Homo sapiens: one gene and its partners. The protein of the gene in region 3 purifies or fractionates together with the protein of the main gene of each other region. This does not show direct contact. Each region holds a gene or a part of one and is shown on either strand. Other genes may lie near its edges.

Region 1 (7,026 bases), on a different chromosome or scaffold from region 3:
AATCTGCCCATATTTATGTCCTATTATAATGGTTAGTACCACAATCTGTGCTGTTACTAAAGCTAAATACTGTCATCCTTGACCTTTTGCCCCACAGCCACTCAGCCTCAAAGTCCTCTGAGTTCTACTTCATAAATATCCCTTGAATACATCTCATCCTTTCCATTCCCACAGCAATATCCTAGTTCAGATCACCTGGTTTATTTTAACTATCTCTTAATTTGTCTCTGTTTTCATCTTAGACCCTCCCATTATTCTCCACATTGCATTCCAGGTGGTTTGTCTAAAATCAAAATCTAGTCATGTTGCTACCCTATGTAAAATTTTTTACTGGATTATCATTATTCTTAGAATTAAGTCCAGTTTACTAATTTGGTTTACTCAGCATGTAGTCTTTGGTCTCTACTTACCTTTCTAGCCTTGTGTCTTATTTCTCTCTCAATTAGATTGTATATGGGCCATCCCATCTATTGTGACCCTTTATGCACACTGCTGCTCACTTTGCCTAGAATACACTTTCCCTCCCCACTCCCAACTTACTGGGCTTCAGTTCTTATCTTATATATTATCCCTTCTCCCCTGCTCCAGCCAAGTCTGAATTAGCTGGTTTTGCCATGAGCTCCCTTAGTACCTTGGATGCTCCTGTTCTTAGTATTTATTACCTCACAAATAACTATGCATTTCTTTTTCAAAATAGTCTAAATATAAGTTTATTGAGGATAGTGATATGTGTCCATAGTCTGTAAATTAGACTGGCACATGTGTCTGGCACATACTTTATGCTTATAAATATTTTTCTATTAAATGAGAGTAATATGAAGTGGTCTTCTGTATAACTATAAAACCCTATTACATGATTTTCTTACATGCTACATATCTTTTTAAATGATTTGTCCTTTTCTGCATGTTTTTAGAGGAATATAGGAATAAGTAAAGATCTAGTACCTTTTAAGTTAGCATACTTTAAGTTTTAATATCAATAAATATGTTTATTTCAGAATTGTTTAATTATATAACCCTATTTTAATTCAAACCCTATCATTGGAATCCCTGTTTTAATTTTATCATCATGATAATGCGTATCTGTTTTTAAAAGAGGCTACAAGATGAAGCATGGTTGTTTTTCCTGATCTATACCTTCATTAATCTCCCATTGCTAGTAATCCTTACTGATGGATTTGATATTTATATTTAGGCTTTAAAAAATTATATTCCATAAGAAAGGGAGATAATGCTTAATTGTTGGGCATTTTGTTTGTTACAGTCTACCCTGACATTTGCACTATCAGCCTTGTAGCAGTGAGTGATGTGAATAAACATGCTGATAGAATTGCTTTTTGGGATGATGTCTATGGCTTCAAGATGTCCTGCATGAAGAAAGCAGTTATTCCAGAAGCTGTTGTGGAAGTTTTAGATCCGAAGACTCTTATTTCAGAACCTTGTGGTATTAAGGTAGGTGTTTTACCAACTTTATTTTTTATAATGGTATTGCTATTTTTCTTAGTTCAGCATTTGAAAATAATATATTGATTTTATATATGGGCTTTCAAAACAGTACTTTTCCCATTGTAATCAGTCTAAAACAAATTGAGGTCATAATATTTACCAGTTGACTATATCATCTCTTTAGAATCACTTCTCTGTATATTAAAACTCCTTACACTCAGTTTTACAGTCCTTCAAATCTAACTCTGAACCGGTTGAATAATTTATATTTACTTTGGCTTAATAAGGTAAAAAGTCCTGCTGTATTATCAGTTCTGCTTCATCATCCTCCCCAGCCTTATTTTAGCTTCTCATTTACAGCCAGATTATTCATTCGTGTCATATATTCCACACAGTTTAACTTCTCTCATTCAGATTTCTTCCAGCGTTTTCAGATTAAGTAATTACATATAGTAAATTTGCCCATGAAACGAAAGCCCTACTATGTTCAGATTTCTCAGTTAATTCCTTTTGTGTTTTGTCATCTTATTTTTTGCCATGTTAATCTCTGGGTTTATTATGAATTTTTCTATGTTGAATTTACATGGGTTCACTAATAACTTTGCAGCAAAAAACAATACTGCTTTTCTTAACTCTTGGTCTGTTTCAACTAGATAATCAAATCTAGAGCAGTATGTTCAGTGTTAGGTTCAGGATATTGTCTTTGTCTCAAGAGAAAAAAAAAAAAAGAGTCTCACTCTGTCGCCCAGGCTGGAGTGCAGTGGCGCAATCTCGGCTCACTGCAATCTCCGCCTCCCGTGTTCAAGCGATTCCCCTGCCTCAGCCTCCCAAGTAGCTGGGACTACAGGCATGCACCACCATGCCTGGCTAAATTTTTGTATTTTAGTAGAGATGGGGTTTCACCGTGTTGACCAGGATGGTCTTGATCTCCTGACCTCATGATCCGCCTGCCTCGGCCTCCCGAAGTGCTGTCTTCTCGTTTTAATCACGCTGTTACTTTCATATAGCATCAATATTTCTTCTCTGTACAAAGCAGATATTTAGTACATATTTAATTTTCTTAAATGGATAAAGCATTAATAGTATAGAGTAATAAATGTGAAGTTTCTTAACAAGAGCAGGCTGATTAAAAGTGCGTTCAGCTTTTAAGAAAAACAGTCTGCTTGATGGTTATACGACTTCAGTGCTCTGGTACAGTGAGAATAAAGAGTTTATTTGGGCTCTTTGGCTCAGGATAGGAGTGTACAGTTATAACCAACTAAGCCTTAAAGTTGAGCAGAAAGAGGAGAGTTGGTGGAGGTTGCTGATTTCTCTCTCTAGTGATCTCTGCTTAATGCAAAAACTGCCATGAATAAATAGTTGAGACAGAAAAATTTAGACCTGAAAATAAGGTGTTAAAAAGTGTATGTACTCTTTTTTTTTTTTTAACATTTATTTAAGTAAATAGTTTGTTCTGTATTTTCCAGTCCTCCCACAAACACATTGTACTGTTAAAATGTTTTCTCAAATTGTTTTCAATAGTGTCTCAGATGTGTGGTTACATTAATTGCATTCACTGGGTTATGATCTACTCCTGGCTGGATCTACTCAGCTGATGACGGTCTTTACAGCACACTTCTGGTTAGACTGCTGTAGTTGAAAGGTGATTCCATCCCTTCTCCAAAGTATAATGGAGAAGGATTTGAAAAAGGGCAGAATGGGAAAATAAAGATATTTCGCTATTTTTTCTCTGGATCGAAATCTCCATAGTTTTGCTGTTTTGTTTGAATTGTGTGGTTTCTCCTCATATCTAACAAAACTTATCTTCAATTATAGACATGAATTTTAAAACAACTTTCTTTTCATTAGCATGTGTTTTCAAGTTGGCAGTTCCTATAAATGTATTGACTGTTATCACACATATTTTATAGCAGTTGTGGTGGGTGTACCATACACAGTAGGCAAAATGATGTTAGGTGAAACACAGGAAAACATTTTTTATTTGAAAGTATTTATTTTAGTGTGTCAGGAAAACTTTAGCACATTAGCACTATGATTTGATAAATACTATTGTTTACAAGGAGCCTAAGTTAAATGAATTTAAGAAAAAATTAACAAGATGATAGTACTAGTACTCCTTAAACTTATAAATAATTCCAAAAATTAGCATGTGAGTAAAGTTTGCAAAACTTTGGTTTCCAATAATCATTTGTGCATAAAAGAAGTAATGTTTGTCTGGGTTGTTTTTGTTTTATTTTTTGTTTTTTTTTTTTGGACTATTTTTACTAAGCTCTTTCTTCACTTCTTTTTAATGGGTAGCATATAGATTGCCATACGACGTCTATCTCAGATTTGGAATTTTCATCAGATTTTACCCTGAAAATCACAAGGACATCCATGTGCACGGTAAGCTATTTCATTCTGCTTTTACAAATTTCACTAGCAGTGCAGTTGATTGGCAGGCTAATGAGTTTAATTACCAGGCTTGTGACAAATGAAAATGACTATTGCCTCTGACAGTCTACCATTGCCTTTGCTAGGCCATTGAACAGATCTGGTTAATAGGTCAGTAAACTTCAAAAAAGTTTAATTCAGTAGAAAAAGTATTAGGAAACCCTGTTTACATAATGATTTTTCTTTATAGAGTCTTCATTATTTCCTATCACGTGGTTAGTCAAGAGCACTCAACTTTATCTTCAAAGACCAAAGTTCATACCCTATTCCTCCCTTTAACTCTTTACATTTAATTTAGATGGAAGATATGTTTATTTGGTAGAATATTTTATGTTTTATATTTATGTATGAAAAAATTACTGAACTGCTATTGAGTTACCTTTCAAAAATCTAATAATAATTTAATAGTCTAATAGAAAAAATCCTTTGGAAAAGTTAGGCAGATCTGGGTTCCTATGTGGTTCTACCACTTATTTCGTTGTTAAGTTACCTAAGTAATCTGTACTTCAGACTATTCAGTTGCTTTAAGAAAAATGGGGATAATTCTGTTTCGATGACTCATTACATGGATTCATGAGATATATGTGAAAATACCTGCAATGTAGCCAGAAACGTTAGATTATTAAAATATAAAAAATTTTTCATCTCAAATAATTTATAAATGTTTATTTTTTTAAGATAACATTTACTGCTGTCAGGAGACTCAAATTGTTCATAAAATCTGCTCCTTATAGTATGAGTTTATATAGGTGGTATTAACATATTTATATTATTTTAAAAATATATGGTTTTTAAAACTATGTCCTCAGAAGTTTACATTTTTATGGAAAATTGTATTGTCAGAATCTGTAAAATAGATTATAAGTCATGTTAACATTGAGTCTTCTGCCTGATTCTTTTAAATATTTGGTTCAGATCGATATATTATACACAAGACTTCATGTCTTTACAGTTGTTTCAGTTCATTTTGATTCAGTGATTATTTTATATCCAAATAAGTTTAACAATGTACTTTGATGTTTTGAGGGAATCTTCTTTTAGTTGAAGTTGGTTTTATAATTTTTTAAAGTTTAAATATCCAGATTTAAGTTTAATTTAAATATCCAGATTAAAGTTTAAATATCACAAATAAAGATTTGTGACTTTGGAGCACTCATTATTTATTTAATTAACAAAAAGCAAAATTTGATTCATTTCCCATGTATTTTCTAATTCTGCTTTTTAGTAATTGAAATTATTTTTGTCAATTGAAATTAGGCTAAAGGCTAACTCCTAGACTTTCCTTTTTGTTTTGATATTATTAATACATGAGGGTTGAAAAAAGACCATCTTGATTAATGAAAATTGATCAATCATCTATAAAGGAATTCCTAGAATAAATTGTCATGTCACCAGTATTAAATATATATTTCACATATATTTTCAGTGCCTATCACATGAATCAAAATAGAGCAGATGTAAAACTCTACTGAAGATGTCAAAAGCTTGTGCATATTTGTGAACTCTAGAAAAGTTTATTGACTTTCATTGAAATGTTCTTTTTTTCTAGTTTATTGGTCAGGGTTCTTAGTTTTCGACAACAGAATTTAAATCGGTTGGTTTAAACTGAGAGATTTGTTAGAGGGAATACAATAGTTTCCAGACACATTGGGAGACCTAAAGGAACAGACAGTATTTTCAACTTCTAGAAACTTCTAGAACCACACCTTTGAACTGGCCTGCTACAGAGCTGCCTGTTTTAAATAGCCTAGCACTGTAGGTTCTATTTACCTTAATTCCCCTAGCCCACTCCGTGTTAGCCACCACTGACAACCCCAGATGAACAAAACCCTTTACTACCATCCTGGTTCCTGGTCCTCTGTCCTCCCAACCCAGGTAGGCCATGTTCTCCTTCCAAATCTTCATTCAGCATATCTGCTTGGTGAATCTAGGTCATGTGGGGCCCTAGCTGTCAGTAAGTTTTGGAAAGCAGTTTTAGCTACAGTTTTATACTACAGATCTGGAGTTTCATAACACATATATGGAATTGTTTTCTATTTCCTAGTATTTAGGATAGAGTACAAGAAGGTTTGTATTAAATGAAACTGTATCCTTCAGTCATCTTAGTTTTATTCTGTATACTTAAAAGAGTAAAAAGAAACATCTTAGTTTTATTCTGTATACTTAAAAGAGTAAAACAAAACAAGAAAAAAATTGGTAAAGTCTATTTAATTCAAAGATTGTAATTGAACTTTTAATATTGAAGAATCTAAGTATCAAATAGTTACTTGCTGCATTTGTCCCTGTACAAAGTTCCATAAGAAAAATGAATTATAAGTAAACTGTTACATTATATCTATAAAGTACCTTTTATTTAGATTTGCATTTTTAGTCGCAACTTGCCTGAATGGTGTTTATGAAAAAGTTTGTTTGGAAATTAGGTGAGCCTAAGGTTTGCGAAGAAGGTGGCAGGAGGTTGGAGTGGAGTTACAGGTGTCTAGTTACTGCTGAATAACCTAGTTCCATAACTCACCTCAGGAAGAATGTATTGTTACAAACCATTTATTGGATGCATGCCAGGTACTGAAGATAAAATATTTTAGTAGTTAGCATTGAATGTTAACTCTTCTGACATTATCCTTTAAAATTTAGTTAATATTATCAGAGGAAGGTAACGTACATCAACAGTCGTTGAACACTTGAATGTCAGACAATGTGCTAATCACTTTAAAAGCATTATTTAGTTCTCATAATAACCATTTGAGATGAGTACTCATATTATTCCCATCTTACTGGTGAAGGAAAAAAATTACTGTTTTACTTGTGAAATAAAATCTCCTTACTCTTTCCTGACCCAAAAAACCTTCTTTGTGGGATTGTAGAAACTATTAAAAGAACTTAGAGAAACCTATGAATAAGATCTTACAGGGGTAGAAGAAAGCAGGCTTCGTGTTGCATTTGAAACAGATTTAACAATGTTTATTTTTGGCAAATAGTCCAGCAGTTGGAATGAAGAGGGAAAGAGAATATGTATAATCAGAATTCACTCTTCTTAAGAGACAGGCCTCACAGATTCATGTGATGAAATCAGTACCAGAGTTCATCCTCTTTGCAGCAGATAGGAAGTAGATCTTTGAAGTTTTTCTTTATCCTCTCAGAGTAAGCTTA
Region 2 (7,026 bases), on a different chromosome or scaffold from region 3:
GAACCTGGGAGGCAGAGGTTGCAGTGAGCCAAGATTGCGCCATTGCACTCCAGCCTGGGGGACAGGGCAAGACTCCATCTCAAAAAAAAAAAAAAAAATTTAATAAAAGTACAAGTTACCTATGCTTATTATTGGAAAATATAGTCAATACTGGGACATTGTAATTTTAAAAATCACCTATTATTTCCCTTCTCCTTTCCCTGACCCCAGTAATGACTCTAAGCATTTAGGCATTAATCCTTCTGGGTGATTTTCTGTAGATTGATAGAAAGATTGATAGAGACAGGGAGATATCTTGGTTTTTTAACCAAAATTGGGTCAGGCCATATAAACCATTCAGAAGTACTGATTTTTTCTTTGTGTGTCACGTGTGTGTGCTGATTTTTGACAGCACTGTGAAGATTTCATCCACTCATAAGCAGGCCAGCTTTTTCCATCAGTGGAGTCCCCTGTACCTGCCCCAGAGCTGACGTGTGTTTTCTCTGTTGTCAGTTTACTGTCTGCTCCCTGGGCTGAATGAAGCCTTGCTCTTTGGAACAGTGTTTCTCAGCCAGGATGGGGTAAATGAGAATCTTTTTGGGTTTTTTCCTTACACTGCACCTGAACCCTTGACACCTGCTTCCCATTCCCCATGAGAAACCACAGTCACTCCCATATGCCGTATGGGGATGGAGGAAGAGTTGAAAATTCTCATTTCACTTGTTGAGATGGGGTCTCACTGTGTTGCCCAGGCTGGTCTGGAACTCCTGGGCTCAAGCAGTTTTCCACTTTCCCACCTTGGGCTCCCAAAGTGCTGGGGTTACAGGTGAGAGCCACTGTGCCCAGCCAAAATCCTCATTTTAGAGCAGCCCTTTTTAACTTCATCATATCTTGGAATCACCCAGGAGTTTTTTGTGATGGTGGTGGTGGTTTTTTTTAACCAATACAGATGGATGGGCTCCTGGCTCCGCCCCTCTCTTATTGGGAGTTGGTAGTGGTGGTAGGAGTTTTTGAAAGGGGTTCCTTGGGTGATTCTGGGGACACCTCAGTTAAAAGCCACTCCTTTGGAGCGTGCATCTGAAAACAACCAGCCAGAGCACATGGAACTTGCTTTCCAAGGTGCACAGGGCCACCCAGCCAGACCAGAAATGTCTCCTGAGAACCAGCTGCAACTTGTGTATGTCAGTAGCTTGGGGTGGAAGCAGCCAGGTATGGGGGAACATGTCTCAGACCACTCCAACTCCCTCAGTGAACCTGGGGCAGGTCACTTCATCCTCTGGGCCTCGGAGCAGAGACATGTTTCCTGACTGAGGGCTGCCATGAGGATCCGACGACACTGGAGGCAGGCATTAGGGGTGCGACACAGAGTGCATTATGTAGGGAAGGGCTTGTTAGTTTTGGAGCTCTGGGAGACATACTATCTTCTAGGTTGCAAAGATCTACCATCTTTCTTTCAGTGTCCTTTTGCTCCCTCCTGATAGTAATAAACATTGAACTTTTTTTTTTTTTTTAAGAGGCAGGGTCTTACTATGTTGCCCAGGCTGGTCCCAAATTCCTGGGCTCAAGTGTTCTTCTGCCTTAGCCTCCCGAGTAGCTGGGAATATAAGCACATACCACTGCACCGTGCTACTACAGTGAACACTTATTGGGCACTTACGTGTGCCAGGCACTAAGTGTGTTCACATATGTTAGCACTCTTAGAATTCGCCAGCATTCCCTGGAAGTAGGTGGTGGTATTCATCCCCATTGTACAGATCTGAAAATTAAAGTTCAGAGGTCAAGTGGCTCAGGTTACACTTGTTGGTGACACTGAAAGGATTCAGACCCAGGTTTCTCCTAGCCCCAAAGTCCAGGCTCTTAACAGCTGTTCCATCTCGATTACAAAGCTCTGAAATACCTGGGTTCTCAATGATGCCATGACTTGGCCATTTGAGTATATCATTAATCCATTCAACACACATTTACCCAGTACTTAACCAGTGCCCGAAGTTTCCTAACACACGCATGCCCAATTCCATTTCCCAGTCCCTTGAGAATGTGACCTGAGGCTCAGCGAGTGATTTGTAAAGGTGAGCTGGCCAGAAAGGCTCTGCCTTCTCAGTGTCTCAGAGGAAAGTGGCCCAGGTTCCTGTACATCCCTGGGAACAACCTGCCTCACCTTCCCCTTCTGCCCAGGCACCGCCTCGCATTTACACTGTCCTATTCCTGATGATTATCTTTTGGAGGAGGGAAATATTTTGGGGGTTAACTTAACACTCTTTTGATTTTGGTTTTATACAATGGAAGGTGAAACCTAGGCCCTTGTGCGATTGAGCCAGCATTCTCTGTGTGTGTCTGTGTGTCTGTGTGTGTTTGTTTTAAGACTACAATTTTTTTTTTTTTTTTTTTTGAGACAGGGTCTCACTCTGTTATGCAGCCTGGAGTACAGTGGTGCGACCACAGCTCACTGTTTCTTCAACCTCCTGGGCTCAAGCGATCCTCCTGCCTCAGCCTTCTGAGTAGCTGGGACCACAGGTGTGCGCCACCATGCCTGGCTAGTTTTTGTACTTTCTGTAGAGTTGGGGTTTCGCCATGTTACCTAGGCTGGTCTCAAACTCCTAGGCACAAGTGATCTGCCCACCTTGGCCTCCCAAAGTACTGGGGTTACAGGCATAAGCGCCTGCACCCAACCTTAAAACTACTGTTAATTAGCACTTACTACATGCCAGGTGCTGTGCTAAAAAGTTTACACCCCTTATTTAACTTTACGTTCCTGACAACCGTAAGAAGAGGCACTGTTGTTATCCCTGTTTTACCAAGGTGGGAAACAGGTTCAGGGAGGTTAAGTCACACGGCCAGTAAATGGCACAGTTGGGACTCAAACCCAAGTCTGCCTAAAGCCAATGAACAGACTTGGGTGTGGGGTTCAGACCATAAATTCGTGTCCATCCATGTTCCAATTCCAGTGACTAGTCGATTTTCTGTGTTCTGTTGTTTATAAAGCACCAAAGTCCCTCTCACCCACTTGTGTTTGCTTGTTTGCCTGTGGAACAGAGCAAGGTGATGTCACAACACCCACCTCAGAGCAAGTGGAGAAGCTAAAGGAGGTTGCAGGCTTGCCTGACGACTGTGCTGTCACCGAGCGCCTGGCTGTGCTGGCCTTTCTTTACTTATACCTGTCCATCTGCCGGAAGCAGAGGTGTGTGCGTGGTCTGGGGAAGGAGTCCAGATTCAGCCTCCCATGGAGAAAAAGGAAGAGTTTCTGTCATTGCTGCTGGAGAATGCACATGCTCTCTTCTAGAGCAGCAGCCATTGGCTGTCCTCATCATGTGCCAGGCACCCTGCCAGGCACGGTATATATGGCGTGCCTTTTTTTTGAGACAGGGTCTCTGTTGCTCAGGCTGGAACGCAGTGGTATGATCTCAGCTGACTCCAGCCTCGACCTCCCAGGCTCAAGTGATCCTTCCACCTCAGCCTTCCAAGTAGCTGGGACTACAGGTGCGCACCACCATGCCTGGCTAAATTTTTAAATTTTTGTAGAGATGGAGTCTCACTGTGTTGCCCAGGCTGGTCTCAAACTCCTGGGCTCATGTGATCCAACTGCCTTGGCCTCTGAAAGTGCTGGGATTAGAGGCATGAGCGACTGCACCCGGCCCCAGCCTCTCTGTTGTTGTTTTTGTTGTTTTTGTTTTTGTCCAGAACCCAAAGGGAAAAAAACCTCAAGGGGGCAGCCCTTCCCTTGAGCAGCAGATGCTGGCTCAGTGGCCAGGCTCTATGCTGAGGACACATTCGGAAACGGCCTGATACTTGCCGTCCGAAGCAGAATTTCAACTTGAGAGAGGCATGTCCCCTTAAGTGGGTGAGGGGCATTCCAGAATCTTCCAGGCTGGGTGGGGTGGGTACGTGGAATTTGAAGACGCACATTATTACAATTTTTCTATTTGGGAAATGGGAAAAGCACTTCGTGGAAATTACCAAACATGAAGTTTGACAGTTCTTGCTTGGGGGAAATACATGTAAGATGTAGCGATTCGGACCTTTCTGGTGATCAAAAGCAGACCCGTGTTACACATGGTTGGGGAGCACCGTCTGGCGGGAGAGGCCCCGGTGAACACACAATCCTAGTGTGCGGTGGTGAGGCAGCGGTGGAGGGAGGGAGGGCAGGCGGGGGTCCTAGAAGGGGAGCCAGGAGGGTCTTTGTGGGCAGCTACGGAAAGTGTCACAGTGGAAGCGACATTTGATAAGGCCTTGAGAGATGGGTAGGGATTTCTCTGTGGGATAAGGAGGTGCACGGCTATTGCAGGCAGAGGGGCCAGCCTGTGCTCAGAGCAGGCCCACAGAAAAGCCTAGCATGTGGGCACAGGAAGGAGGTGGGAGAAAGGGGTTGACAGCTTGCCAGGTGCTTCTGGGAAGGGCTCTGGTTGAATGACCCAGGGATTTAAATGAACTTGATACCTGTTTTCTAGTTGTCTGATTCAGCATGAGTTCCTGATGTTCAATAGGGATACATTTGGGGTCAGGAATTCTCCCCCAGTTGAGAAAACTGGACCAGATGCTTGGAGTCAGGCCTGGGCCTGGCCCCTGGTTCAGTGCTGGCACCCCACTGCCCTGCGGGAGAGTCACGTTTCACACCCTGGTGTGTTTCAGGGCCCTGCCGAGCCTGGATATCGTAGTGTGGTCGGAGCTGCCCCCCGGGGCGGGCTTGGGCTCCAGCGCCGCCTACTCGGTGTGTCTGGCAGCAGCCCTCCTGACTGTGTGCGAGGAGATCCCAAACCCGCTGAAGGACGGGGATTGCGTCAACAGGTAACCATGGTCCTTACCTGGCCAGTGTCCCTCCCGCACGGCAGGACAGGGACGTGGCTTCTCTCACTGAGACCTCACCACCTCCCTGTGAGGTGAGAGGTGTCATAGTGGCCATTTTAACATGAGGAAGCTGAGCCCCGAGAGGTCAAATGGCTGGCCCAGGGCCACACAGCTAGTGCTGGCAGAGTGGGATTTGAACTCAGAGTCTGAGCTTTTCTCTCCTGCTCTCCACCACCTCTGCTCACCCCCATCTTGGCTCTGTTGGTTTCAAGCGCCCATGGTATGGTAGAAAGAGCTGGAGTCCAGATCTAGAGGGCAGCAGGTTAGATGAACCCTCCCACCTCTGCATTGACTCAGGCTAGGACAGTGTTCTCCTCTGTATGGTAATGACAGTGCCCTAGGGGTGATTGTCCAGTTTTACCACATGGTTATGAAAGAAACTAAGAGTTTGCTGAGAAATCCACATTAGGGGGTGTGCCCATTAGACTAGGGCATCTCTCCTCCTACGGGGCCGTCTCCACGGAGGGCGTGTCACCTCTCTGCGTTCCTATTGACCACGTGAGTCAGTGAGGCCTGTCCAGACAGGCTTGACCACAGACCATTTCTATCATTAGGAGAATGTTCCTTGAGAAACCACCCAGTGCGCAGAGGTTACGCAGTTTGTCCCAGGACCAGGAGTTGTGGATGAGGCCCCCAAATGCAGAGCTCTGTCCTCTTCCTGGGCTTGTTTTTGTTTTGTTTTGTTTTGTTTTCTGAGCTTGGTTTTTTTGTTTGTTTGTTTGTTTGTTTGTTTGTTTGTTTTTTGAGATGGAGTCTCGCTCTGTCACCCAGGCTGGAGTGCAGTGGTGTGATCTTGGCTCACTGCAACCTCTGCCTCCAGGTTCAAGTGATTTTCCACGGGCCAAAGGACTGGCCCTGTCTTTCAAAAGGTGGAGGGTGACTGTGTGTGTGCACTTGCATGTGTGTGTGTTCTTATGCTGCTTCTAACCATTTCTCCCACCTTCCCCTGAAGGCCAGTCATTCCTTCTCAGAACCCTTAGGGAGAGTAGACCTCCCACCCCACCCCACCCCACCACACCCCACCCATCATGTGTTTCTGAGTCGGAAAGGACTGGAGCCCAGTCTCCTTTGAAGACTCAAATCTGAGCCCCCTAAAAAACAAACTGTGTAGAGCAGGAGGAAGACTCACATTTGTTGAGAGGGCCAGGCCCTGGGCTAGGTCAGCTGCCTGAGTTACCTTCCCCCGCCTCCATCACTCACTTCATCCCAGGCACGCTGCCACCTGTTGGTCCCTGGGAAGGGCCAGCCAGCTCTGGTGTGGTTCCAGTGCTGCACAAGTGGTGTGTCTGGAATGCACCCCACACACACACCTTGCCCAGCTGGCTCCCCTTGTCCTTCAGGCACCACCACCCCGCCCCAGCCCCCAGCAATTCAGCCCATCGTACTCTTACAGAAACACCTGGTTTGTTTTTGTTTTTGTTTTTTTAACTATATTATCATTTATTAAATGTAATTAGGTAGCTCTGGATCCTTGGTCTGTTTTTTTTTTCTTTTATTATTATTATACTTTAAGTTTTAGGGTACATGTGCACAATGTGCAGGTTAGTTACATATGTATACATGTGCCATGCTGGTGTGCTGCACCCATTAGCTCATCATTTAGCATTAGGTATATCTCCTAATGCTATCCCTCCCCTCTCCCCCCATCCCACCACAGTCCCCAGAGTGTGATGTTCCCCTTCCTGTGTCCATGTGTTCTCATTGTTCAATTCCCACCTATGAGTGAGAATATGCGGTGTTTGGTTTTTTGTTCTTGCGATAGTTTACTGAGAATGATGATTTCCAATTTCATCCATGTCCCTACAAAGGACATGAACTCATCATTTTTTATGGCTGCATAGTGTTCCATGGTGTATATGTGCCACATTTTCTTAATCCAGTCTATCATTGTTGGACATTTGGGTGGGTTCCAAGTCTTTGCTATTGTGAATAGTGCTGCAATAAACACACGTGTGCATGTGTCTTTATAGCAGCATGATTTATAGTCCTTTGGGTATATACCCAGTAATGGGATGGCTGGGTCAAATGGTATTTCTAGTTCTACATCCCTGAGGAATCGCCACACTGACTTCCACAATGGTTGAACTAGTTTACAGTCCCACCAACAGTGTAAAAGTGTTCCTATTTCTCCACATCCTCTCCAGCACCTGTTGAGAAACACCTGCTTTGAAGTCACATATTGCAGTGTCATGGATTTGTTTGTAT
Region 3 (7,026 bases):
ATTATCTTCCATGAAAAAAAGCTTTTCAGCCGGGTGCAGTGGCTCACGCCTGTAATCCCAGCACTCTGGGAGGCCGAGGCGGGTGGATCACAAAGTCAGGAGATCGAGACCATCTGGGCTAACACAGTGAAACCCTGTCTCTACTAAAAATACAAAAAATTAGCTGGGCATGGTGGCGGGTGCCGGTAGTCCCAGCTGCTCGGGAGGCTGAGGCAGGAGAATGGCATGAACCCGGGAGGCAGAGCTTGCAGTGAGCCGAGATCCTGCCACTGCAGTACAGCCTGGGCAACAGAGCGAGACTCCATCTCAAAAAAAAAAAAAGCTTTTCAAATACTTACCAATAGTAGCATAAACCCATTTACTAATACAAAATCTAGGGGTAATGTGTTTTTTGTGTGTGTGTGGTACTAGATAAACTTACCGCATATACATGTTCTCCATAAGCAATCACGCCTATTCCACTCCTCCTGCTTCTCATGGGTGCTATGACTGTCCACTGATTACTTTCAGTGTTATACACTTCTGCTGTGAACAGGCACTCGTTTCCATTAAACCCACCACATATGTAGACCTGTGTGAAGAGTTCCAAGATTATTAAAATTCCCACTCTAGGGAGTAGAAAGAAAGGATATGTGTGTGGTGGTAGTGGGCACTTAATTCCAGTCTGTACAGTCTGAATTTCTTTTTTTTGTATGTGCATGCATTGCTTTTTATTTATTTTTTAGAGACAGAGTCTCGCTCTGTCACCCAGGCTGGAGTCCATTTGCACCATCTCTGCTCACTCCGCCTCCTGGGTTCTAACAATTCTCCTGCCTCAGCATCTGGAGTAGCTGGGACTACAGGCGCACACTGCCACGCTCCGCTAATTTTTTGTATTTTAGTAGAGACGAGGTTTCACCGTGTTGTCCAGGCTGGTCTCGAACTCCTGAGTTAAGGCAATCCGCCCCTCTCAGCCTCCCAAAGTGCTAGGATTACAGGCATGATACACTGTGCCCAGCCTATTTATTTTTATTTTTTGAGATGGAGTCTCACTCTGTTGCCTGGGCTGGAGTGCAGTGGAGCTATCCCGGCTCACTACAACCTCCACCTCCTGAGTAGCTGAAATTACAGGTGTGTGCCACTGTGCCTGGCTAATTTTTGTATTTTTAGTAGAGACCGGGTTTCACCATGTTGGCCAGGTTGGTCTCAAACTCCTGACCTCAAGTGATCCGCCCACCTTGGCCTCCCAAAGTGCTGAGATTACAAACACAAGACACTGGGCTCTGCCACATTACACATTACTTTTTTTTTTTTTTGGAGACGGAGTCTTGCTCTGTCATCAGGCTGGAGTGCAGTGGCGCAATCTTGGAGCACTGCAACCTCTGCCCACTGCAGCCTCCGCCTCCTAGGTTCAAGTGATTCTCCGCCTCAGCCTCCTGAGTAGCTGGGACTACAGGCGCCTGCCACCACACCCGGCTAATTTTTTGTATTTTTAGTAGAGACAGGGTTTCACCATGTTAGCCAGGATGGTCTCAATCTCCTGACCTTGTGATCCTCCCGCCTCGGCTTGCCAAAGTGCTGGGATTACAGGCGTGAGTCACCGAGCCCAGCCTGCATTACTTTTTTTTTCTTTTTTCTTTTGAGATGGAGTCTTGCACTGTCGCCCGGGCTGGAGTGAAATGGCGCCATCTTGGCTCACTGAAATCCTCTGCCTCCGGGGTTCAAGCGATTCTCCTGCCTCAGCCTCCCGAGTAGGTGGGATTACAGGCGCCCGCCACCAGGCCTGGCTAATTTTTTGTATTTTTAGTAGAGACAGGGTTTCACTATGTTGGCCAGGCTGGTCTTGAACTCCTGACCTAGTGATCTGCTTGCCTCGGCCTCCCAAAGTGCTGGGATTACGGGCTTGAGCCACCGTGCCCGGCTTTGCATTACTTTTCAATAAACAACATAAAAGACAGTTGCAACTAGTCACCTTGTCAATTGAAGAAAGAATGAGTACTCCAAAGTGAATACTGCCACTGCGTCTTCCATCCACCCCAAAAAAGAGCAGTATCATTTCTGGTCTTGTACTTTGCATCCACATCTTCCCCTCCCACCCTGGTCCTTTACCTTCCCATAAAGTGTTGTGGCGCTTGCATCACTCCTCTGTTCGTGCATGGGGGCGATGAGTGTCCATTGATTGGTCTCTGGCTCATAACGTTCAGCAGTGTTTAGACGCACGTAGCCATCAAATCCTCCCATGGCATAAATAAAATTGCCGAGGACTGTCACACTGACATAGCAACGTCTGGAGTGCATCGGGGCCACCTGATGCCAAGTTTTCTTGACTGGGTCAAAACGCTTAACACTATTGAAATAGTCTACACTATCAAACCCCCCAATGATATACACATAGCCTTTCAAATAGGCTGCCCCATGGTAGGCACGGGGACTCTCTTCCTCACAAGTAACATTCACCCATCTGTCTGCCCGAGCGTCATATGCCTCAATGGCATTGGTGGGGCTCCCACCACTCCAGCCACCAATTGCAAAGAGGATGGCATAGGGCAAGCGTGGTCTGGTGAGTGGGTTGGTGAAATCAGAATTAGAGGGTCCATTCATGTTGAGGTCATACATGGCCTTTAGGGCATTAATGATGACTGGTTTGCATTCCTCACTGTCTTTGACATAGTCATTCATCTTAACATTGTTCATGAAGTACTCAGCATGCATTAGGGCCAGGCGAACCTAAGAAGCAAACGCAGAAAGTCATTCAGGTGACGTGAGAGTGCCAGGAAATCCCACATCCTTAACTCCCATTTTTCGATCTGCCTTTGAATTGCTGGAAATATTTTGGTTTGTTTTTGAAATGTATAAGTCACAGTTTAAATAGTCGATTTTGAGGCTCACACCATAATCCCAGCACTTTGGGAGGCCAAAGCAGGTGGATCACTTGAGGCCAGGAGTTTGAGACCAGCCTGGCAACATAGCAAGACCCTGTCTCTACTAAAAATACAAAAATTGGGGCCAGGCGAGGTGGCTCACGGCCGTAATCCCAGCACTTTGGGAGGCCGAGATGGGCGGATCACCGGAGGTCAGGAGTTCTAGACCAGGCTAACCGACATGGCAAAACTCCATCTCTACTAAAAATACAAAAATTAGCTGAGTGTGGTGGCACGCACCTGTAATCCCAACTACTCAGGAAGCTGAGGCAAGAGAATCGCTTGAGCCAGGGAGGCAGAGGTTGCAGTGAGCCGAGATCACCCTACTGCACTCCAGCCTGGGCCACAGAGCAAGACTCCGTCTCAAAAAAAAAAAAAAAAAAAAAAAATACAAAAACCAGGCTGAGTGCAGTGGCTCACGCCTGCAATCCCAACATTTTGGGAGGCCGAGGTGGGCAGATCACTTGAGGTCAGGCATTTGACACCAGCCTGGTCAACGTGGTGAAACCCCCATCTCTACTAAAAATACAAAAATTAGCTGGGCGTGGTGGCAGGTGCCTATAATCCCAGCTACTCAGGAGGCTGAGGCAGGAGACTCGCTTGAACTGGGGAGGTGGAGGTTGCAGTGAGCCGAGATCGTGCTACCACACTCCAGCCTGGGCAACAGAGCTAGACTCCAACTCAAAAAAAAAGAAAAAAAAAAAATTAGCCAGGCATGGTGCCGCGTGCCTGTAGTCCCAGCTACTCTGGAGGCTAAGGTGTGAGAATTGCTTGAACCCAGGAGGTGGAGGTTGCAGTGAGCTGTGATCACACCACAGCACTCCAGCCTGGGTGACAGAGTGAGACTTGTCTCAAAATAAATAAATAGTTGTCAGCCGGGCGCTAGCTCACACCTGTAATCCCAGCACTTTGGGAGGCCGAGGCAGGCGGATCACGAGGTCAGGAGATCAAGACCATCCTGGCTAACACGGTGAAACCCCGTCTCTACTAAAAATACAAAAAGTTAGCTGGGCGTGGTGGCGGGTGCCTGTAGTCCCAGCTACTGGGGAGCCTGAGGCAGGAGAATGGCGTGAACCTGGGAGGCAGAGGTTGCAGTGAGCCGCGATCGCATCACTGCACTCCAGCCTGGGCAACAGTGAGACTCCTTCTCAAAATAAATAAATAAATAATAAATATTTATTTACTATTTATTTATGGGGAGGTGATATATACATTTGGAAGCTGAGAATGAGCTAGATAGAAGGCACCTCAAGTGGCCAGAGAGCAATCCCATTCCTTGGTTAGTGGTCAGTACTATTAGACCAAGAAAAACCATGGTAATTGTTCAGTAATTGAGTATGTCTTAATATGTAAAATAACGCTTATTAGCACCAACTGACAACAATTGTGTGCAATACTTAAGATTTTTTTTTTTTTTTTTGTTAATTTGAGACCAAGTCTCTCTCTGTCGCCCAGCTGGAGTGCAATGGTGCGATCTGGGCTCACTGCAGCCTCCGCCTCCTGAGTTCAAGTTATTCTCCTGCCTCAGATTCCCGAGTAGCTGGGATTACAGGCATGCACCACCATACCTAGCTAATTTTTGTATTTTCGGTAGAGAGTGTTCTGCTATGTTGGCCAGGCTGGTCTCGAACTCCTGACCTCAGGTGATCCACCTGCCTCCGCCTCCCAAAGTGCTAGGATTAAAGACATGAGCCACTGTGCCAGCCATGATTTCTAATTCAACTTCTACCTTGGGTATGGAGAAATTCATAGAAAGGAAAAAAGCTGAAAGGAATTTCAGCCCTTTAGAATTTTTTTTTTTTTTTTGAGACAGGGTCTCGCTGTATTGCCCAGGCTGGACTGCAGTGAGGTGATCACAGCACACTGCAGCCTTGACCTCCCAGGCTCAAGCAGTCCTCCCATTTCAGCCTTCCACCCAGTAGCTGGAACTGCAGGCATGCACCACCAAGCCTGGTTAATTTTTAAATTTTATAATTTTTTTTTCTTTTTTTTTTTGAGATGGAGTCTTGTTCTGTCACCCAGGCTTGAGTGCAGTGGCATGATCTCAGCTCACTGCAACCTCCGCCTCCTAGGTTCAAGCGATTCTCCTGCCTCAGCCTCTTGAGTAGCTTGGATTACAGGCACCCACCACCATGCCCAGCTAATTTTTGTATTTTAGCAGAGATGGGGTTTCACCATGTTGGCCAGGCTGGTCTCGAACTCCTGACCTCAGGTAATCCGCCCATCTTGGCCAAAGTGCTGGGATTACAGGCTTGAGCCACTGCACCTGGCCAAATTTTATACTTTTTAAATTTTATAACCTATGTTGCCCAGGCTGGCAAACTCTGGGCTCAAGTGATTCTCCACCTCGGCCTCCCAAAGTGAGCCACCACACCCCACCTAGAATTATTTTGAAGGCTCTCTTCTTCCCCCACCACCAGGAAGGATTTTGGTCAAAGAATATAACTTAGGTAAAAAGAACTAGTAATGCCAAGGGAAAAGACAGTTGCAAAATTCCAGAGAATAGTAGATGCCTTCTATCTAAGGACATGTAAATACAGCCTTGGGATCTGTCATATGTCTGAATTTTGCTTTTAGGACAATCTCTCTGTGATAAATGAATCAAGAGTGAACACTGACCTTAGGAAGCAAAATTGAAATGTGCTGCTTTCTATTTTGGGGGTCATGAGAAATCCACTTTAAAATGGCCTCAAATACAGCATCTTCCTGTTTGACATTGAGCTCATCTTTCTCAATGATATCCTTAAGTTCAGTGACCGAGAGCTCTAAAAATTCTGCCGAGACTTTCACCATCTCCTCAAAGTTGTGCAGTATGAACATGTAGGCCTTCTGCCTCAGCTCAGGACAGTAGTAGTAGTCCGTGAACTTACAGATGCCGATACAATTATCCAAGCACAGCTCTGACTTGAGGAACTCGCAGCAACCCCTGACGATACCCATGATGTTAAACTGGTCTGCAGCAGCAAGCAGTTTCTCCACATTGTCCGGTGTGATAGGCACGGTCCGGGTGTATGCATACTCAATGATTAGCTTCATCATGTCGGGAGAAATGCCAGGGATGTTGTATACCTTCTTTTCAGTGTTGTTCCAGCCACTTGTAAACAAAGCTCTGGAAAAAAGAAAGAAACTAGCAGCCACGGAAACATTTCTCTCCTGTTAGGTGAGTACATTGGAAATGGTCTGAGAAAGTGGGGTGCAGGCATGTGCTATATACAGTGGACAAGAAGAACACCTTTCCAAGAACTCTGACTTTGGTCACTCTTACCTTGTGGATGGAGAAATTAAGATCTAGAACTGAGAGTAAGACCCAGGTCTCTTGGGCCAGGCGTGGTGGCTCACGCCTATAATCTCAGCACTTTGGGAGGCCGAAGCGGGTGGATCATGAGGTCAGGAGTTCAAGACCAGCCTGGCCAACGTGGTGAAACCCCGTCTCTACTAAAAATACAAAAATTAGCTGGGCATGGTGGCACATGCCTGTAGTCCCAGCTACTTGGGAGGCTGAGGCAGGAGAATCGCTTAAACCTGGGAGGCGGAGGTTGCAGTGAGCCAAGATCATGACACTACACTCCAGCCTGGGGGACACAGCGAGACTCTGTCTGAAAAAATAAAAATAAAATGGCCACTCACTGCTTTTTATCTTCCTTTTCTTATTTTCCCAGGCATTTATGATGATTTGATATGCATTTTACTCATTTAATGCCTGTTTCCCCATCCAGGGGGTAAACTTCATGAGAACAGGAATGCTTCTCTTTTTATTAATTGTTTTCTTTTCTTTTTTTCTTTTTTTTTTTGGAAACAGGGTCTTGCTCTGTCACCCAGGGTAGAGTGCAATGGCATGATCTTGGCTCACTGCAACCTCCAACTCCAGAGTGCAAGCAATTTTCCTGCCTCAGCCTCTTGAGTAGCTGGGATTATAGGTGTGTGCCACCACGCTCAACTGATTTTTGTATTTTTTAGTAGAGATGCGATTTCACCATGTTGGCCAGGCTGGTTTCATCATATTGGTCAGGCTTGTCTCGCACTCCTGACCTCAGGTGATCTGCCTGCCTCGGCCTCCCAAAGTGCTGGGATTACACGGGTGAGCCACCATGCCCGGCTTTTGCTTCCTTTTTTTAAGAAGTTTAAG
Region 4 (7,026 bases), on a different chromosome or scaffold from region 3:
ATGTAGCTGCCCCGGGGGTGAATGCTGGAGGGTTCTGGCGCTGGCAGCACAGCCAGCCACGAGTGTGTGTGTGTGGGAGGGTCAGGCATCAAGGGGAGTGTGGGACCTCTGGGAGTCCCCCATCCCATCCCACAGTGTCAAGCTGGTAGATTTCCAGGGAGAGTGGGGAGTGGTGGGGAGGACTGAGACAAAGAGGAGCAAGTCAATTCCTCAAGGTTTTGGATTAAAACCCAGGAGTCCCACTGTCTCGATGAAATGTCCTTCTGGATGACTCAGGAGTAGAGATGAAAACTTCAACTTCTCTCAGAGGCTTCATTCTGCCAGCCTGCCTAGCCTTGGGTTTCTGCTCCTTTGAAATGCCTTCTCTCTCTACTATGTTCTCTCCTCCTCTGCCCTGCCTGCCCATCTCTGCTCCTTTCCTTTTAATAACCTCCCAGTTAAGCGAATCGAATGGGAAGAAGCAGTTAAAAGCAACTCATGGCTTGACAATGCTGGGTAATGGAGCGAGCAAGGCCCCGGGCTGTTCCTGGGAGAATTCAGGAAGGAGGAGGAAAAATAATAATAATAAAAAAAACTCAGCTAAGCTGATTACAAGGACAAAGTTAATTTAGAAATCAGCTCTGTTGGGTGGGAGTGGGGGGTGGAGAGTACGGAACTGGACACAAGAGGTTGGGAGATTCGATTTGGGGGAAGTGTGCTTTATATAAACTGCCTTTGTTCCTGGAAATCATAATCCTTGGGAGGGACCAGGGTTCACTCCTTCGGATTCCTCGGCTCCTTCCATCCGGAGCAGGGGGTACAATCGGGGATTGTCCAGAGCTTGGATATCTCGTGGCACCACATTCCAGAGGCCCCGCAGCCCCTGAGCCTCACATCTGTGGCCCCCTCCCTGCCCCTGCTCCCTGCTCCACTCCCCCTCACTGGACGGTTAGGCTTCAGCATTTTTCACATACCTCTCTCACAACCTTTATCTTATAAAATTGTCAATATGTGTTTATACATCCATCTCCCACACCATACTGAGAGTGCCTCAAGAACAGGGACTAAATCTTACCTACCTTTTCATTCCCAGGCCTAGGCCCAGCACAGCCATTTAAAAAAACAATGCTCATAAGTTGAACACATGCTCTCACCCCCCCTGGTGGGACCCTCTTCAAAGGACTCCATTTGAAAAACCAGAGCTCACTTCCTAGCAGAGGTTTTAAGAATCTTTAGGCTCAGCTCCTAAATGCACATGTATCTAAGGCCACAGACCAGTGGAAATGGCCCAGAATTGACCCTGAAGGGACTAAACCCGGATGGGCCCTCTGATGGAACCAGATGGCTCCCCTTGACTCTGGGCAGTGTAGACATGGCCCAAGCTTGGGGGGGACAGGTAACAAAGAGCCTGGCCTCAGAGTCAGGCTGCAGAGCTCTCCTCGCAGTTACTGCCGTTGAACTCTGCCTCCAGGCATCTTTATCTTATACTGAAGTATTCTCAGAGGAAAAGATTTCCTCATCCTTCCGAAGTCTCTCTGGCTCAAGTCACAGATCTGAGACTTCCCAAGGCAGAGCTGGTATTTCTCTAAGGTTTTCTGCTCACTTCTGCCTGGCCAAACCTTGGTTATCTGTTTTTTTCATGTTTTTAATTGGAGGGGTTATAAATTTCCATAGTGTCTCCAGTAGAAGAGGTGTTTAAGAGGAGGGGAGGCTTTGGTGAGAAGTGAGATGGGGATTATACCTGTTTTTAACACACCCTTTGTCTGCTTAAAAAACAGAAATCCATTGCTCCCCAGTTCTTACAGGGGAGTCTTTGCAAGAAGTCTTTGGCCTGGCTTTTCCAGGCCTCCTCTGGTCTGTCCCCATTCTGCCGTTCTGGATCATCTCATCTGTTTCTCCCAAACCAACCCAAATCCTCAGTCCAACTGGCCTCAGTGTCCGCCACACATCCCACCAGCAACATCTTGGTTCCGGAAGTCTGGCCCATCTGGTAAGGCTCTCCCTCTTCCTGCCACATCCATGTCCTGTCCATCCTTGGGCCCCACTTCCTCCACGGAGCCCTTCCTGGTCACTTCAGCCCACAGCAAAGTCCCTTCTCTGGACTCTCTAGCTCTGACCTGCACACTGCTATCACGGCACCAATGACTCCACACCTTGCACCACCAGCAGTCTTCATGTGTGTATATCTTAGTTTCTTAAAAGGGAAGGACCACCTGCTGTCATATTTTTTGGTCCACATAATGCCTACCAGTATGTTTTGCATATAATAATGTACAGTTGATGATTAAAAAAATAATTCTCCTGATTTGGTGAAAGAGAGAACTGAGGCCTACTGAGATTAAGTAATTTGCACTGAAATCACAAAGTGAGACCTTCAAGGGCAGAGATCTAGTACATTATTCACTTTGCAACACTGGAGCCCAGCACACAGTAAGCACACAATTCTCTTCCGCTGAATGAAGGAACAAAAGTCCTTCCTCTTTCCACACATCTTTCAGTGAAGATATATTCCTCAGACTGCCTCAGAAGGAAAGAAGGGGCAAAAAGAAAAGGCATCCAATGGCCTAGTCGATTCTGAAGCGGACCTAGGATGGGACAGCTTCCTGGGATAAACCTGCTGGGCACAGAGTACACCTCCAGACACTCGGGTTCCTGTTATCCCTTCCCTGCCTCAAAACCCAAGACCCACAGCATTCTGGGTGAGTCTCCCATCACCTTCCAGAGCCAGATTGCAAAAGGAATGAAGCGGCAGCATTCTCTCCTGGGAAACTAATGGAATTTGCTAGAGAGTTCTGGAGATTTCTACCCCTGGATTTAAGACCCTTAATCCTGAGGAGGTTGACTGGCTGCAAGGCTCATTTATTTCAATACGATGCCTATTTTGTTAAATGGGCTCAAGGAGGGCAGAGAGGGATGAGGACTGCAGCCCCTGGAGACAACAGAGGTTAATAAAAGTGGCTGAATAAATTAAATATGGAGGGAAGGACAAGCTGGGAGCTTGGAGTCAGCTGATAGAGGGAGAGTAAGTGGGATAGAAAGAAAAAACAAAAGTGTCATACTTCAGTGATGTCTGCGAGCTACAGCAGCTTTTATCCTGGATGCTCCAAGAACTTAATTAGGTTCGCATTGTCTGACAATCAGACGTAGGAAGGTATAAGAGCTGGAGCTACAGAATGGAGAGGGACCAGTGTTACAGAATGAGGAACCCCAAGCTTCTTTCTCAACTTTCATAACTTCACAGTTTGTGCATCTATCAGAGAGGATGCAGGGCATGCAAGGCAAGGCAAAAAGTAGTGCCTTTAAAGACACAGGAGGGCTGCTATGGCTGGAAGAAAAATGACTCACAAAAATGTACTACTGTTGCACACTAGTGCTCTGGTGACTGAAAAGGCTTGGGTAAAGATGAGAGATATCTGTCCAGATGTGTATGGGGATGGGGATAAGAAGTGGGTGCATGTATAGCTGCACTATGAAGGCATGTGTGAATACATATGCATATGCATATGCATGCAGTGAGATTGCATCCACACGCTTGCATGCAGCAGTAATGCAGAACAGGTAGGTGTGCAGTCTTCCTTCTAGGAATTATCCTCAGCCCCCACCCCATCTTTCCTGCTTGGGTTCTAGTTCTGGCTCTGTCACTTACTAGCTGGATCATCTTGGACAATCTGCTTAACTTCTTTGGATCCCTGTTTGTCCATCTGTAAAATGGGGATAACACCTAACTTCAACAATTATGTCAGTATTGAATTAGTTACTAATGCATGTAAAATACAAAATTGCCCTTCACAAAAGTGAACGGATTTCTCCCCCACTCTGAGAGAGCCCATTATTTTTCCTGATTTCTGAAATTGCCTCTTCCTCCTCCCTGGTTTCACATTTGAGGATCAAGGACATGACAGCCTCTTTCTCCTCTACTGCTGACAACCCACCCCCACACCCCCATCCTTTTCCAGGTCAAAGAACCCTCCAGGAGATTGCCAAGTAAACTGGTCCAGAGGCCCTGGGAAGAAACCAGACAGGAACTGGTAGGTCGGGAAGGGGCATAACTTTCTCATCTCTGGACATATGAAGAGAAATGTCTCTAGCCTCAGATGGAAACATCTCCCAGAAATTGGGGAGATTAAGGAATTTGTCCCCATCCCTTCCCTCCATACCAACTGCCACCCCTTTGCAATTTATTTAACTTCTCTAGGTCTCTGTTTTCTCATCTATTAAATGGAGAAACAACTCTCCTGCCTACACCATAGGATGAGTGTATCTCTCTATCAAATGGTACATGTGAAAAGTTGCTAAAATTGCCAAGCACCATACAGGTACAAAGATAAAAGACTCTAAACGTGGGAGGAAAAGGATTGAGGCTTTCCAAACCTCCTTCTGACAAGGGGCATTATTTACTGGTCCCAGCCCCACTGATTAAAACATGTATCCTGACATCTAAGTTTTGCTTCACAAATGATCATCAAAGCAAGGCAGGGAGATAGATGTGTCCTTGGAATTTCTGGGCTGAGAACTAGGGAAGGGGGCTGAGCTGAGTGAGGCACCAGGAGAGGAAAAAAGGCCTAGGCTTCCCTCCTGTCCTTCCACAGCTGCCTTAACTCTAAGAAAGGCAGGGTGTGGCTCTTCTAGGCAGGCTGAAGGGCACTCATGGCGCTTAGGAGGGAGACAAAAGAGGGGTTGAATCTGGGGTCTAACACCTCAGGTATGCCCTTCAGCAAGTTACTTAAACTCTCAACTGTGGTTTCTTCATCTATAAAATGGGAGTAACATTAACCTGAAAAGCACACTGTAGGAATTCAATAAAAGGTAATTTTGATGCTTTGGTATGGAGTTCACCTCCTACAATCACTTTTCACCACCCAAGGCCAGGCAGTTCCCCAGGGCACAGGCTAAGAAGGAGGGTTGAAAGCCTCCCCAGGCGGGTTAGAACAAGCCATCTAAGACCCTAGCCTCCAATCCTACCAGACTACCAGGGACCAGACAAATTTGGAAGCTGACACTTGGGGAGATCCTGGTCTCAGGATTATCCCCTAGACCCCTTCTCAGTGCTTCTTTTGCCTCTGTATGGCTCTGGGCCTCTCCAGGAGTCAGCCTTGCATGGAACAAGAATAATTCCCAAATTTGTAGTTCATGGACCTGTAACAAGGCTGTGTTTAATATTAGAAACAAACCTTTTTATTTGCCAAGTCCTTGAAAAAAGTCATTTACTAGATTTATCATATCATCAAAGAAAAACAATTTAACACCAAAAAATGTAGGACAGAATCTCAGAATAAAGGATTGTTTTTTAAATTTGAATGAGTTTACCTTTATGAAATACTCACTCCCTTTTCTTCCTAGTTCTCATTCTGCTATGGACCAGGAAAATCCCTGTCCCAGTCCAGCATCAGTCTCTGCTGGCATGTAGGATCTGGCAAAGGAGAAGGGTGCAGGCTGTGGGATCCACTGGTTCCTACAACTACCAATAAGATACTTAATGTATCTAAACCTCAGTTTCTTGGCCAGGTACAGTGGCTCACACCTATAATCCCGGCACTTTGGGAAGCCGAGATGTAAGAAGCGGTTGAGCCTTGGAGTTTGAGACTAGCTTGTGCAACCTAGCAAGACCCATCTCTCCAAAAGAAAAAAAAGAAAATTAGCCAGGTGTGTGTGGTCCTAGCTACTTAGGAGGCTGAGGTAGGAGAATGGCTTGAGCCTAGGAGGAGGTTGCAGTGAGCCATAATCACACCACTGCACCCTAGCCTGGGCAGCAGAGCAAGACCCTATCTAAAAAAATAAATAAATAAATCTCAGTTTCTCATCCATGAAATGGGGATAATTTACACAGCCAATCTCAGGGGGCTGTAGCATAGATTAAATTAGATAATGCATATGAAGTAGTTACACAGGGCTCAATAAATGATCCATATTATTTCCAGACTCTGAAATGCTGCCACCTCGGGGCTAGTGTCCCTCCTCATTTCACACAAGAGCTCTGGTTCCTTCTCACTCAAGTGCCAACCTCTTCCACTTTTGCTCTCTCTCCTCAAATCCCTTCCCCAGATCTTTTCTGAGGTCTCCAAGGAGGGGGTCAGTTTCCCCTTCTGGGTCTGCCACAACATAGTTCTTTCCATGAGAGATACAAAGAAGGCACTTACTGAAGCCCAGGACCAAGAATCTGGGGAGCTGGAGCTAGAAAACACACACACACACACACACACCCCACAAAGAATCATAGGGAGAAGAAAAGGAAGCGCAGACAACTTGACTGCCTGTCTATCTATGTCTCACCTCAAAGCCAAGATAGCAAGCATTTACTGAGCACTTCTCGCTGTGCCAGACACTGTTCCATGTACGTTACATGGATTAACATATTCAAGTGCCACCACAACCCTATGAGGTATTACTTCCATCCTCACTTCTGGAAGAGCATGCTGAGGCACAGGGAATGTACATGACTTGTTCAAGCTTACGACTACCAAATGGTGGAGGTGGGAGCTGGATGCGAGTCTGTGATTTAATCGCCATCGAATGCTGCCTCTTTCCAGCACTGCAGCGCGCTCATCAAATCAATCAATTGATCAGATATTTAAGGGGCACTTACCACCAGAAACTATAGGATAAAAGAAATTAAGACTTAGTCCTTGTAAGGGTGTAAAGAGGTCCTAGGGGGGCAGAGGTGGGGCTTCCTCCTCCCATCTCACTGGAGCGCCAAAGGCAGAGCCAGAACAACCAACCACTCAGCTGTGGGAAGGAGCAGAGGCGAGAAGGCCTGGATGCCTCCTCCTCCTCCTCCTGACCAGGTGCTCTGGGGCCCAGGGCTGAGGCACTGAGTACTTGGTTCACACCCTCCCTTTGGGTCTAAGTGAGTAGAAGGCAGAAAGTGGAGTTCAGTCAAGGTCAAAGAGAGGAACCCAGTGTCCTGGTTTCTGCCATGTCTCCCCTGACTCTTCCCCAACCTCAGCGCCCTGCTCTGGGCAGAAGTGGGACATCTAAAGTGTGTATATGTGTCTATGTGTAGCACCGAAAGGGGAGAGTCCAGTTACTCTCCAGACCTGCTGTTCTCTG

Evidence for each region.
Region 1: the proteins of KLHL10 (region 3) and PRMT3 purify together in Homo sapiens (affinity purification with mass spectrometry; 2 studies listed by BioGRID and IntAct, with this or other methods). This does not show direct contact.
Region 2: the proteins of KLHL10 (region 3) and MVK purify together in Homo sapiens (co-immunoprecipitation; 3 studies listed by BioGRID and IntAct, with this or other methods). This does not show direct contact.
Region 4: the proteins of KLHL10 (region 3) and KIRREL1 purify together in Homo sapiens (affinity purification with mass spectrometry; 2 studies listed by BioGRID and IntAct, with this or other methods). This does not show direct contact.

The regions. Positions count from the first base shown.
Region 1 is NC_000011.10:20,460,716-20,467,741, forward strand, and holds part of PRMT3 (protein arginine N-methyltransferase 3), read left to right. Parts: intron 1-1,264; coding exon 1,265-1,452; intron 1,453-3,744; coding exon 3,745-3,831; intron 3,832-7,026. UniProt on the Homo sapiens protein: Protein-arginine N-methyltransferase that catalyzes both the monomethylation and asymmetric dimethylation of the guanidino nitrogens of arginine residues in target proteins, and therefore falls into the group of type I methyltransferases.
Region 2 is NC_000012.12:109,576,790-109,583,815, forward strand, and holds part of MVK (mevalonate kinase), read left to right. Parts: intron 1-2,375; exon of another isoform or gene 2,376-2,493; intron 2,494-3,012; coding exon 3,013-3,157; intron 3,158-4,605; coding exon 4,606-4,761; intron 4,762-7,026. UniProt on the Homo sapiens protein: Catalyzes the phosphorylation of mevalonate to mevalonate 5-phosphate, a key step in isoprenoid and cholesterol biosynthesis.
Region 3 is NC_000017.11:41,840,806-41,847,831, reverse strand, and holds part of KLHL10 (kelch-like protein 10), read right to left. Parts: intron 6,010-7,026; coding exon 5,520-6,009; intron 2,707-5,519; coding exon 2,089-2,706; intron 572-2,088; coding exon 422-571; intron 1-421. UniProt on the Homo sapiens protein: May be a substrate-specific adapter of a CUL3-based E3 ubiquitin-protein ligase complex which mediates the ubiquitination and subsequent proteasomal degradation of target proteins during spermatogenesis.
Region 4 is NC_000001.11:157,996,622-158,003,647, reverse strand, and holds part of KIRREL1 (kin of IRRE-like protein 1 isoform 1 precursor), read right to left. Parts: intron 1-7,026. UniProt on the Homo sapiens protein: Required for proper function of the glomerular filtration barrier. It is involved in the maintenance of a stable podocyte architecture with interdigitating foot processes connected by specialized cell-cell junctions, known as the slit diaphragm.